3 linked regions of the Homo sapiens genome follow. The protein of the gene in region 1 purifies or fractionates together with the protein of each later gene. This does not show direct contact. Each region holds a gene or a part of one and is shown in the gene's direction. Other genes may lie near its edges.

Evidence for each region.
Region 2: the proteins of NLRP2 (region 1) and TTF1 purify together in Homo sapiens (affinity purification with mass spectrometry; one large-scale study listed by BioGRID and IntAct). This does not show direct contact.
Region 3: the proteins of NLRP2 (region 1) and BCL7B purify together in Homo sapiens (affinity purification with mass spectrometry; one large-scale study listed by BioGRID and IntAct). This does not show direct contact.

Annotation. Positions count from the first base shown.
Region 1 is NC_000019.10:54,986,753-54,990,406, forward strand, and holds part of NLRP2 (NACHT, LRR and PYD domains-containing protein 2), read left to right. Parts: intron 1-3,269; coding exon 3,270-3,440; exon of another isoform or gene 3,441-3,641; intron 3,642-3,654. UniProt on the Homo sapiens protein: Suppresses TNF- and CD40-induced NFKB1 activity at the level of the IKK complex, by inhibiting NFKBIA degradation induced by TNF. When associated with PYCARD, activates CASP1, leading to the secretion of mature pro-inflammatory cytokine IL1B.
Region 2 is NC_000009.12:132,379,221-132,382,874, reverse strand, and holds part of TTF1 (transcription termination factor 1), read left to right. Parts: intron 1-3,654. UniProt on the Homo sapiens protein: Multifunctional nucleolar protein that terminates ribosomal gene transcription, mediates replication fork arrest and regulates RNA polymerase I transcription on chromatin.
Region 3 is NC_000007.14:73,535,848-73,538,419, reverse strand, and holds the end of BCL7B (B-cell CLL/lymphoma 7 protein family member B), read left to right. Parts: intron 1-406; coding exon 407-486; intron 487-1,029; coding exon 1,030-1,122; 3' UTR 1,123-2,064; downstream 2,065-2,572. UniProt on the Homo sapiens protein: Positive regulator of apoptosis. Plays a role in the Wnt signaling pathway, negatively regulating the expression of Wnt signaling components CTNNB1 and HMGA1.

The DNA of each region.
Region 1 (3,654 bases):
TGCCAGGCTGGTCTCGAACTCATGACCTCAGGTGACCTGCCCTCCTCAGGCTCCCAAAGTGCTGGGATTATAGGCATGAGCCACCATGCCCAGCCAGAGTCCTTATGTTTTGGTTTTGGTTTTGGTTTTTTCTTTTTCTTTTTTCTTTTTGAGATGGAGTCTCGCTCTGTCACCCAGGCTGGAGTGCGTTGGTATGATCTCAGGTCACTGCAGCCTCCACCTCCCAGGTTCAAGTGATTCTCCTGCCTCAGCCTCCTGAGTAGCTGGGATTACAGGTGCACACCACCACACCTGGTTAATTTTTGTATTATTAGTAGAGATGGAGTTTTACCACATTGGCCAGGCTGGTCTCGAACTCATGACCTCAGGTGATCTACCCCCCCACCCCCACCCCACCCCGCCGTCGGCCTCCCAAAGTGAGGCATGAGCCACCGTGCCCAGCCCAGAATCTTTATCTTCTATCAGAGATCATTCACTCATGGTTCATGCTTCTCCTGTATGATGATTCAGAATACCAGCTATTGACATTTTTCAAGCAAGAACCCTTCAGGAACATCAAGTTGCCCCTTTTCTGTTAGTCCTCTGGTTTGAGAGCTCTCCCCTTGGGAAGCTGTCCAGTGGCTGCCCAGGCGATGAGAACCTACATGCATCATGGGGTTCCATGAAGCCTCACTTGGCCACACTGGTGTAGTAGGTGGTCATTGGCCTCAAATTATTGCCCTGGGCCAGGCGCAGTGGCTCACGCCTGGGAGGCCGAGGTGGGTGGATCACTTGAGGTCAGGAGTTCAAGACCGGCCTGGTCAACATGGTGAAACTCTGTCTCTACTAATAATACAAAAATTAGCTGGGCATGTTGGCGCACGCCTGTAGTCCCAGCTACTCAGGAGGCTGAGGCAGGAGCATCATTTGAACCTGAGAGGCGGAGGTTGCAGTGAGCTGAGATCACACCACCGCACTCCAGTCTGGGCAACAGTGTGAGACTGTCTCAAAAAAAAAAAAAAAAATCTTGGCTGGGTGCGGTAGCTCATGCCTGTAATCCCAGCACTTTGGGAGGCCAAGGCAGGTGGATCACAAGGTCAGGAGTTCAAGACCAGCCTGGCCAACATGGTGAAACCCCACGTCTACTAAAAATACAAAAACATTAGCTGGGCATGGTGGCGCGTGCCTGTAATCCCAGCTACTCATGGAGGCTGATGCAAGAGAATTGCTTGAACCTAGGAGGCAGAGGTAGCAGTGAGCCAAGATCACGCCATTGCACTCCAGCCTGGGCAACAGAGCAAAACTCCATCTCGAGGACAGAAAAAAAATTGATTGCTCTGGCTCTACTGATACAATCTTAGGCTGCTTAATGGGATCTTAGTTGAATAGGATGCTGTACATCTTACAGGTATTGGAAGGTTGAATGAAACCAAGCCCATGCATTCAATAGTGGCTGCTATCATTACTAACCGTTGCAATTACCCTCTTTTCTTTTTGCCTGAGAATAATGGGATGCAGGGTGAGGGGGAATATTGGGTGAATTAAAGATTTGGGTCACTAATTTCTTTCTTTTTTTCTCAAGATATAGTCTTGCTCTGTCTCCTAGGCTGGAGTGCAGTGCCACAATCTTGGTTCACTGCAACCTCTGCCTCCCGGGTTCAAGTGATTCTTCTCCGTCAACCTCCCAAGTAGCTGGGATTACAGGCACCCACCTGTATTTTTGTATTTCTAGTATTTTGTATTTCTAGTAGAGACAGGGTTACGCCATGCTGGTGGCCAGGGTGGTCTCAAACTCCTGACCTCGGGCAATCCACCACACCCAGCTAATTTTTGGTATATTTAGTAGAGCCGGGGTTTCACCGTGTTGGCTGGGCTGGTCTCGAACTCCTGACCTCAAGTGACATCCATCTTCCAAAATGCTGGGATTACAGCCATGTGCCACCACGCCCAGCTAATTCTTGTATTTTTAGGAGAAATGGGGTTTCATCATGTTGTTCCGGCTGGTCTTAAACTCCTGGCCTCATGATCCACCTGCCTTGGCCTGCCAAAGTCCTGGGATTACAGGCATGAGCCACTGTGCCCAGCCACTCATTTCTTATGAATTTATTCTAACACATTTTCCGGATGAACAGGGCACCTTGAAACATAGGTTAGTGGGCTGGGTATGGTGGCTCCTGCCTGTAATCCCAGTACTTTGGGAGGCCTAGGCTGGTGTATCGCTTGAAGTCAGGAGTTTTTTGTTTTGAGACGGAGTCTTGCTCTGTCGCCCAGGCTAGAGTGCAGTGGAGTGATCTCGGCTTACTGCAACCTCCGCCTCCTGGGTTCAAGTGATTCTCTTGCCTCAGCCTCCTGAGTAGCTGGGACTACAGGCACGTGTCGCCACGCCCATCTAACTTTTGTATGTTTAGTAGAGCCGGGGTTTCACCATGTTGGCCAGGATGGTCTCAAACTCCTGACCTCCTGATCTGCCCACCTCGGCCTCCCAAAGTGCTGGGATTACAGGCATGAGCCATTGCCCCGGCCAAAGTTAGGAGTTTGAGACCAGCCTGGCCAACATGGTAAAACCCCATCTCTACTAAAAAATACAAAAATTAGCCAGGCAAGATGGCATTTGCCTGTAATCCCAGCTACTCAGGAGGCTGAGGCGGGAGAATCTCTTGAATCTGGGAGGCAGAGGTTGCTGTGAGCTGAGATCGCGCCACTACACTCCAGCCAGGGCGACAGAGCATAAATAACTCCCTTTCAAAAAACCAAACAATGAAACATAGGTTAGCGGAGTCTGCATCCAACATTAGAGTCAGATTGACTAAGTTCTGTATTTCCAGCTGATTCCTGGGCGATGTTGGTGCCACTGGTCTGACCACCCTTTGACAACTGCTGCTCCAGATAATTCAAGTCGGGGTATAACACAACCAGTGAGATGTAAACCAAAGACGATTCCACGGTTAGATTCTCAAGAATGACTTGTTCTGCCGGGCGCGGTGGCTCACGCCTGTCATCCCAGCACTCTGGGAGGCCGAGGTGGGCAGATCACCTGAGATTGGGAGTTTGAGACCAGCCTGACCAACATGGAGAGACCCCCACCTCTACTGAAAATACAAAATTAGCTGGGCATGTTGGTGCATGGTGCATGCCTGCAGTCCCAGCTACTCGGGAGGCTGAGGCAGGAGAATCACTTGAACCCAGGAGGCGGAGGTTGCTGTGAGCCGAGATTGCGCCACCTGGGCAACAAGAGTGAGACTCAGTCTCAAAAAAAAAAAAAAAATGACGTGGTCCTATTTCTCCCACAGGTTGGTGTCTTGTTCCGCTACCACTCAGCAGTGGGCTGATCTCTCCTTGGCCCTTGAAGTCAACCAGTCCCTGACGTGCGTAAACCTCTCCGACAATGAGCTTCTGGATGAGGGTGCTAAGTTGCTGTACACAACTTTGAGACACCCCAAGTGCTTTCTGCAGAGGTTGTCGTAAGTCTCTCCTCTCTTACAGAGCAGCTGTGCTTTCGATCTGGGGCCACAGACGAGCAATGGTCATGCCTGACTTGGCTGTATGGAACCTCTCGCTGATGTGAACACCTGTTCCCATGTTTAGATCCAGGCCGATGGCCTGTGAATTTTGTTCTTCTCTCATTCCTATTCCTTCATAGGATCACCAGTGCATGATAGAAGGTGGGGAGTTCAC
Region 2 (3,654 bases), on another chromosome or scaffold:
AGGCTGGTCTCAAACTCCTTACCTCAAGTGATCCACCCACCTCAGCCTCCCAAATTGCTGAGATTACAGGCGTGAGCCACCACACCTGACTTTTTTTTTTTTTTTTTTTTTTTGTATTTTTAGTAGAGATGGGGTTTTGCCATGTTGCCCAGGCTATGCTTGAACTCCTGGCCTTAATCCCTCTCAAAGTGCTGGGATTACAGACGTGAGCCACCATGCCCGGCCTTCCTTACTGTCTTTTAATCTATGAAGATCGTCCATCTTTGCTGTTGATGGTAGTGAAATTTTGGAGGAATACAGGCTAGGTGTTTTGTAGAATGTCCGCAGTTGGCACTTGTCTGGTATTTCCTCTTGAGGAGATTCAGGCTGTGTCCTTCGGGCAGGAGTACAGCATATTCCTGATGTTTGCTATCACTGCATTACGTCACAAGGTACATAATTCTCGTTTTGACTTTTTTTTATTATTTAGCTAAGGCAGCATCTGCCTCTTTTCCCCACTGTATAAAAATACTGGTTCTTCCTTTGGTGGTAAGAAATGGCTGTGGGAAGACATTTTAAGACTATATAAAGATCCTGTTCCTCTTTAAGCTTCTGTCAGTTTCCTTGTGGTTTTCATTTGCATTTCTCATGTGAGAAGTGAGATTGAACATGGCTCTTGTGTTTATAAGCTGTCTCTCTTTCCCTTCACTGTGAGCCTTCACTGCACATAGCTCTTGCATTTTAATCAGTTCCTGCGATTGGAGGGCCCACCACTCTCGATATCTCAACTTACTGCTTGCTACGCAAGGGAGAGCTGGGCTGCAGAGCACAGGCCCTCTACGTGTTGCCGAGCATCATGGGGCTCGGGGATCAGTGACTTTCAGATGCAGGGATGTTGAGGGATTGTTTGGCCTTTGGTTTTGGAAGGTAGACAGTGGGGTGAGGCTGCTGCAGCCTGGCTGACTTCCAGAAGTGTGGCTACTGGTGTGAGGTCGCCATTGGTCCATTAGGAAAGATTTTGTTTTGTTTCTAGTCAATATTCTGCGGAACCATTAGGGAGGGTTTAAACTGGTTCTGGTGGTTAGTTATTTATGGTTTGGGATTATAACCAAACAAGAAAGGACAATCCGTCTCTTCCTTCTTGAATGTGGAGAATTGGAAATTCTTAGTCCAGGCCCTGCCAGGACTCACAGATACATGCCGTGGTCCCAAAGTCTTTTCTTTTCTAGCTCATCTGAGGGGCAGGGTGCCCACTCTTCAGCATCATAGGCCCCAAGCAGGGAGGGTGCCAGGTGCTTTGAAGGAGGTGACGCTGATGTGCACCCCACCAGCTCCCATCTTGAGAACGACTTACATTGACAAAGCCCTTTATAATGTCAAACCACTTTTTAAAAATTCAACTTTTCGGCCGGGCGTGGTGATTCACGCCTGTAATCCCAGCACTTTGGGAGGCCAAGGCGGGTGGATTGCTTGAGGTCAGGAGTTTGAGACCAACCTGCCCAACATGGTGAAACCCCATCTCTACTAAAATACAAAAATTAGCTGGGCGTGGTAGCAGGTACCTGTAATCCCAGCTACTGGGGAGGCTGAGGCAGAATTGCTTGAACCCAGGAGGAGGAGGTTGCAGTGAGCCGAGATTGCGTCACTGCACTCCAGCCTGGGCCACAGAGCCAGACTCCATCTCAAAAAAAAAAAAAATTCAGCTTTTCCATTAAATTTGTGTATGCTTTGTGACATTTCTTCAGATCACATGATTTTTAAAACTAAAATGGGTTTTTATGGTTTTAAATAAAATTACATGTTTAAAAACTGATTATTAAGCTGCACGTGGTGACACATGCCTGTTGTCCCAGCTACTCTGGAGGCTGAAGTGGGAGGATCGCTTGAGCCTGGGAGCCAGAAGTTGCAGTGACCCGAGATCACGCCACTGCATTCCAGCCTGGGTGACAGAGTGAGACCCTGTCTCAAGAAAATAAATTAAATAAAAATAAATAAAAGGGCCCCACAAAATCCAGGTAGGGGGTAACTGATGAACTGATTACCTATTTCAGATTTACGAATCTCAAAACTCTAAGATAGAGATTATGGCATCTAGTCAAATACTATTTGAAATACTACGTACTCTCAAAGTTTTAATAACAAAATGGTAAAAATTATATTGAAGGTTCAGTCTCCTCAGATTCTTAAAGACTTTGTGAATTATATAGGCAGGATTTAAGGATAGCATCTCCACCTAATGAGGTGTAACACTTGCTTGGTTTTAAAACGTCCAGATCAGTTCTTGTTGCTTCCTGAAGCATGGGCTTGGGTCTGCAGCATGTTGGGCGCACAGCATTATGGGAAGGGAAAAGGCACAGGCTGCCGTAGAGCTGGGGTTTCAGAGTGAGACAGATTTGGCATAGAGTCCAGGGACTCCACTTAAAGTCTGTGGGCAGTTGTTCCCTATTTGTCTGAGCCTTTGTTTCCTCATCTGCATTATGGTTTAATAGGCTGTCAGGAAGGCTAAAGGAGATAATGGGCCAGGTGCAGTGGCTCATGCCTGTAGTCCCAGCACTTTGGGAGGCCAAAGCAGGTGGGTCACCTGAAGTCAGGAGTTCAAGACCAGTCTGGCCAGCATGGTGAAGCCCTATCTTTACTAAAAATACAAAAATACAAAAATTTAGCTGGGCGTGGTGGTGGGCACCTGTAATCCCAGCTACTCAGGAGGCTGAGCCAGGAGAACAACCTGAACCTTGGAGGCAGAAGTTGCAGTGAACTGAGAATGTGCCTCTGCACTCCAGCCTGGGTGACAGAGCGAGACTCCATCCAAAAAAAAAAAAGAAGATAATGCGAGAAAGAGACATTGTCTGGTACCTGGCACATACGTCCTCAGCTAGTGGTTGCTGTGATGAAGAGGTCGGAAGAATCTGATCATCTTTTACCTCTACATACTTAGCAGATCAAATTCTTCATGCTAATCATTTTAACAACTGGATTAGTTAATTGTTTTTTAATGTTCCCCTTTTATTAGGAAAAAGTGCCCAAAAAGTTTAGTGGTTTTTTACTTTAAAATACAATTTAAGAATAATTTCTGACCCACTTATTGTAAATTGAAATGTTTTGTAAATTGAAAACGTACCAAAACCTCATAAGCATCTGCTCTTTTTAGCTTTGTGAAATAAACATCAGGGAACATCTGTCTTTGAATTGTGACCAATATGTATGTGTCCTGAGTGTAATGGTTAAGAGGGTAGGATCTGGAGTCACACTACTTGATGAAGTCCCAGCTCTATCCCTGATTAGCCATGTGAGCTTGGGCAACTTCTCTGTGCCTCAGTTTCCTCGTCTCTCCAGCACGAGGGAGAGAGTGGTAACTCCCTCCTTGAGTTGTCGTGAGGATTATTTATTGCTGCAGTTAAGGTGCTTAGGGCAGGGCTGAGCACAAGGTAAGCATCAGCCCGTTAGCCGGCATTATACTTTGCCTTCTATACTTTGCCTTCTCGACTAGTGATACAAGTTATCTTAATTTAAATAGAATCCATTCTGTACTACTGATTCTTTTTCCCCTTTACATTTTTTTAAACCAAATAAACAATAGCTTTCCATATTCCACAAAAATTGTGTCATATTTGTATCACACATGTATGATGATCTTATGTTTACGATAAAAAAAACTATAAACCTCACCTGAATAAA
Region 3 (2,572 bases), on another chromosome or scaffold:
GAAATGCCAATTGTAGTTAATATTTATTGTGTTCTTACTATTTGGCATGTGCTGTTCTTAGCTCCTGTGTTTTATTACTTCATCTCGTCCTCATAGCAACTCTCAGAAAACTGGGAGATTGAGTTAGAGTTGTGATGTTTGGGCTAGAGGATGACAAGATGAGCTGCTTTGTCGGTTCCAGATATCTCCAGCCCAGCAGAGATGGCCCTCTGCAGTCTAGCCGTATTTTGCCCTTCCACCATTCTTGGCTGTGACCTGGTCCAGCTGGGCCCTGAATGAATGTTTGCTTCTCAGGCCAGTATTCTCCCCTCCTCACCAAGCCACCTCCACACAGCTCTAAGGAAGCTCCCCCAGGTCCAGGCCTCAGGGGAGCCCTGCCCTCAGGCCGACCCTACTGCCTTTTCAGAGCCCTCCCTGCCCTCCTCGGAAGTTGCTGATGAACCTCCTACCCTCACCAAGGAAGAACCAGTTCCACTAGAGACACAGGTAAGCAATCACTTTGAGTTTTCCAGTTTTTTGTTTTTTTGGTTTAAGGCAGGGTCTCGCTGTTGCCCAGACTAGAGTGCAGTGGTGCGATCCTGGCTCACTACAACCTCCACTGCCTCCTGGGTTCAAGCAATTCTCCTGTTTCAGCCTCCTGAGTAGCTGGGATTACAGGCGCCCACTACCACACCTGGCTAATTTTTGTATTTTTAGTAGAGATGGGGTTTCACTATGTTGGCCAGGCTAGTCTCGAACTCCTGAGCCCAAGTGATCCACCCATCTCAGCCTCCCAATGTGCTGGGATTATAGGTGTGAGCCACTGTGCCCGGCCAGGCTTCCCAGTTTCTAAGTCAAAAAACCAGGAAAGACTGTGGATGTGGGGTTGGATCTGCAGCGCCGGAAATGAGTCCCAGGGTTGTAGGCAGGGGAGGATGTTTGATCATCTGCTGGAAGGAGCAGAGTGGACATCCCATTATAATTCGGGTGGGTGGGAAGGTTCTGGTTGGGAGGGGTGGCCCTGGCATTCCATGCTCTGCCTGCTCCTAGGTCGTTGAGGAAGAGGAAGACTCAGGTGCCCCGCCCCTGAAGCGCTTCTGTGTGGACCAACCCACAGTGCCGCAGACGGCGTCAGAAAGCTAGCACCATCCCGGCCCTCCGCCTCCTGGCCCTGCCTCTATTTATTGCATTCTGGTTCTGGCCGCGCCGCGTTGCTGGGGTAAGGGCAAGCACTGGGGTCAAGAGCCTGCACACATGAGCCTTCCGGGCTGGAAGGCTGGCGTAGGACTTGGGGCTGTAGCATCATCTTCCTGACCCTGGCACCTGTGTCTACTTGCTCCCGAGAAGAGGAGCGCTCATGTCTTTTTTGCACCCCAAGTTGGCTGGAGCATCGGCCACCCCAAGATTCATCTGTGACCTCCAGGCAGCAGTCTCTGCTCCAGAATCTCTGGACGGAGCTGCTGGCAGCTTCTGCGAGAAGAGAGAGATGTGGAAGGCACCTTCTAGAAGAGAGCGTGCCTCAGGTTACTTGAACTTGAACGGAGACTGTAGACTCCCGGACTTTCCCCTAGGACTGGGGGCCCTGTAGGCTGCTGTTGGAGGACTGGGTAGAGACATTGGAGGGAAGGGAAGGGCTTTTCTCCACACAAGGGCAGAGAGTCCGTCTAGATTTCTTGCTGTCCTGCCAGCTCTGCCCATGCCTGAGGTGGTCCTACCTCTCACGGGCACCCTAGCTGCTGACAGCCCTTTGTGGCCGCCGTCCCCATCCCCTGCCCTCAGCACACACATCTGCACACACGCAGCTTTGTTCTCACCTCTACCTGTCATTCCAGCATCCCTGCCTCTTGTCACAAACTGCCCCAGCAAGAATTTGAGGTTCTGACAACAGTACCCATCCCCCACAGTACCCCTTCAGCTCAGTTTCTAGAAAGCTCCCTTTTCTTTGAAATCTGCATGTTGAATTGAACTTTGTGATTTTATTTTTTGTTTCAAAAAAGTTTAAGAAAATGGAAATGGGCAACAGTGAGTGAAGACATATTTTAGCACTGAATAGAATATTTTTAAAATTAAACTATTTGAAATATGTCCTGTTGGTATCTGAGTGCTTCCTTCTTGAAGGTTGCGGGCCGGGGTGGGGGTGGTGGCTGAGTGCTTGTGGGGTCACTGTGGGCTGGGCCTGCCCATCCTTTCACTCCCACAGTGTGGACTTCATGACAGTGATTTCTAGCCTCCCTTTGAAGCTGTCACGTAGTTCAAATTATGCTTCTCGCTGGGCGTGGTGGCTCATACTTCTTATCCCAGCACTTTGGGAGGCCGAGGCAGGAGGATCACTTGAGGCTAGGAGTTTGAGACCAGCCTGGGCAACACAGCAAGACCCTATCTCTATCTAAACAATATTTTTAAATTAAAACATAAAAACCAGGCCAGGCGCAGTGGCTCCCGCCTGTAATCTTAGCACTTTGGGAGGCTGAGGTGGGTGGATCATCTGAGCTCAGGAGTTCAAGACCAGCCTGACCAGCAAAATGAGACCCCATCTCTACTAAAAATACAAAAATTAGCCAGGCATGGTGGCAGGCGCCTTTAGTCCCAGCTA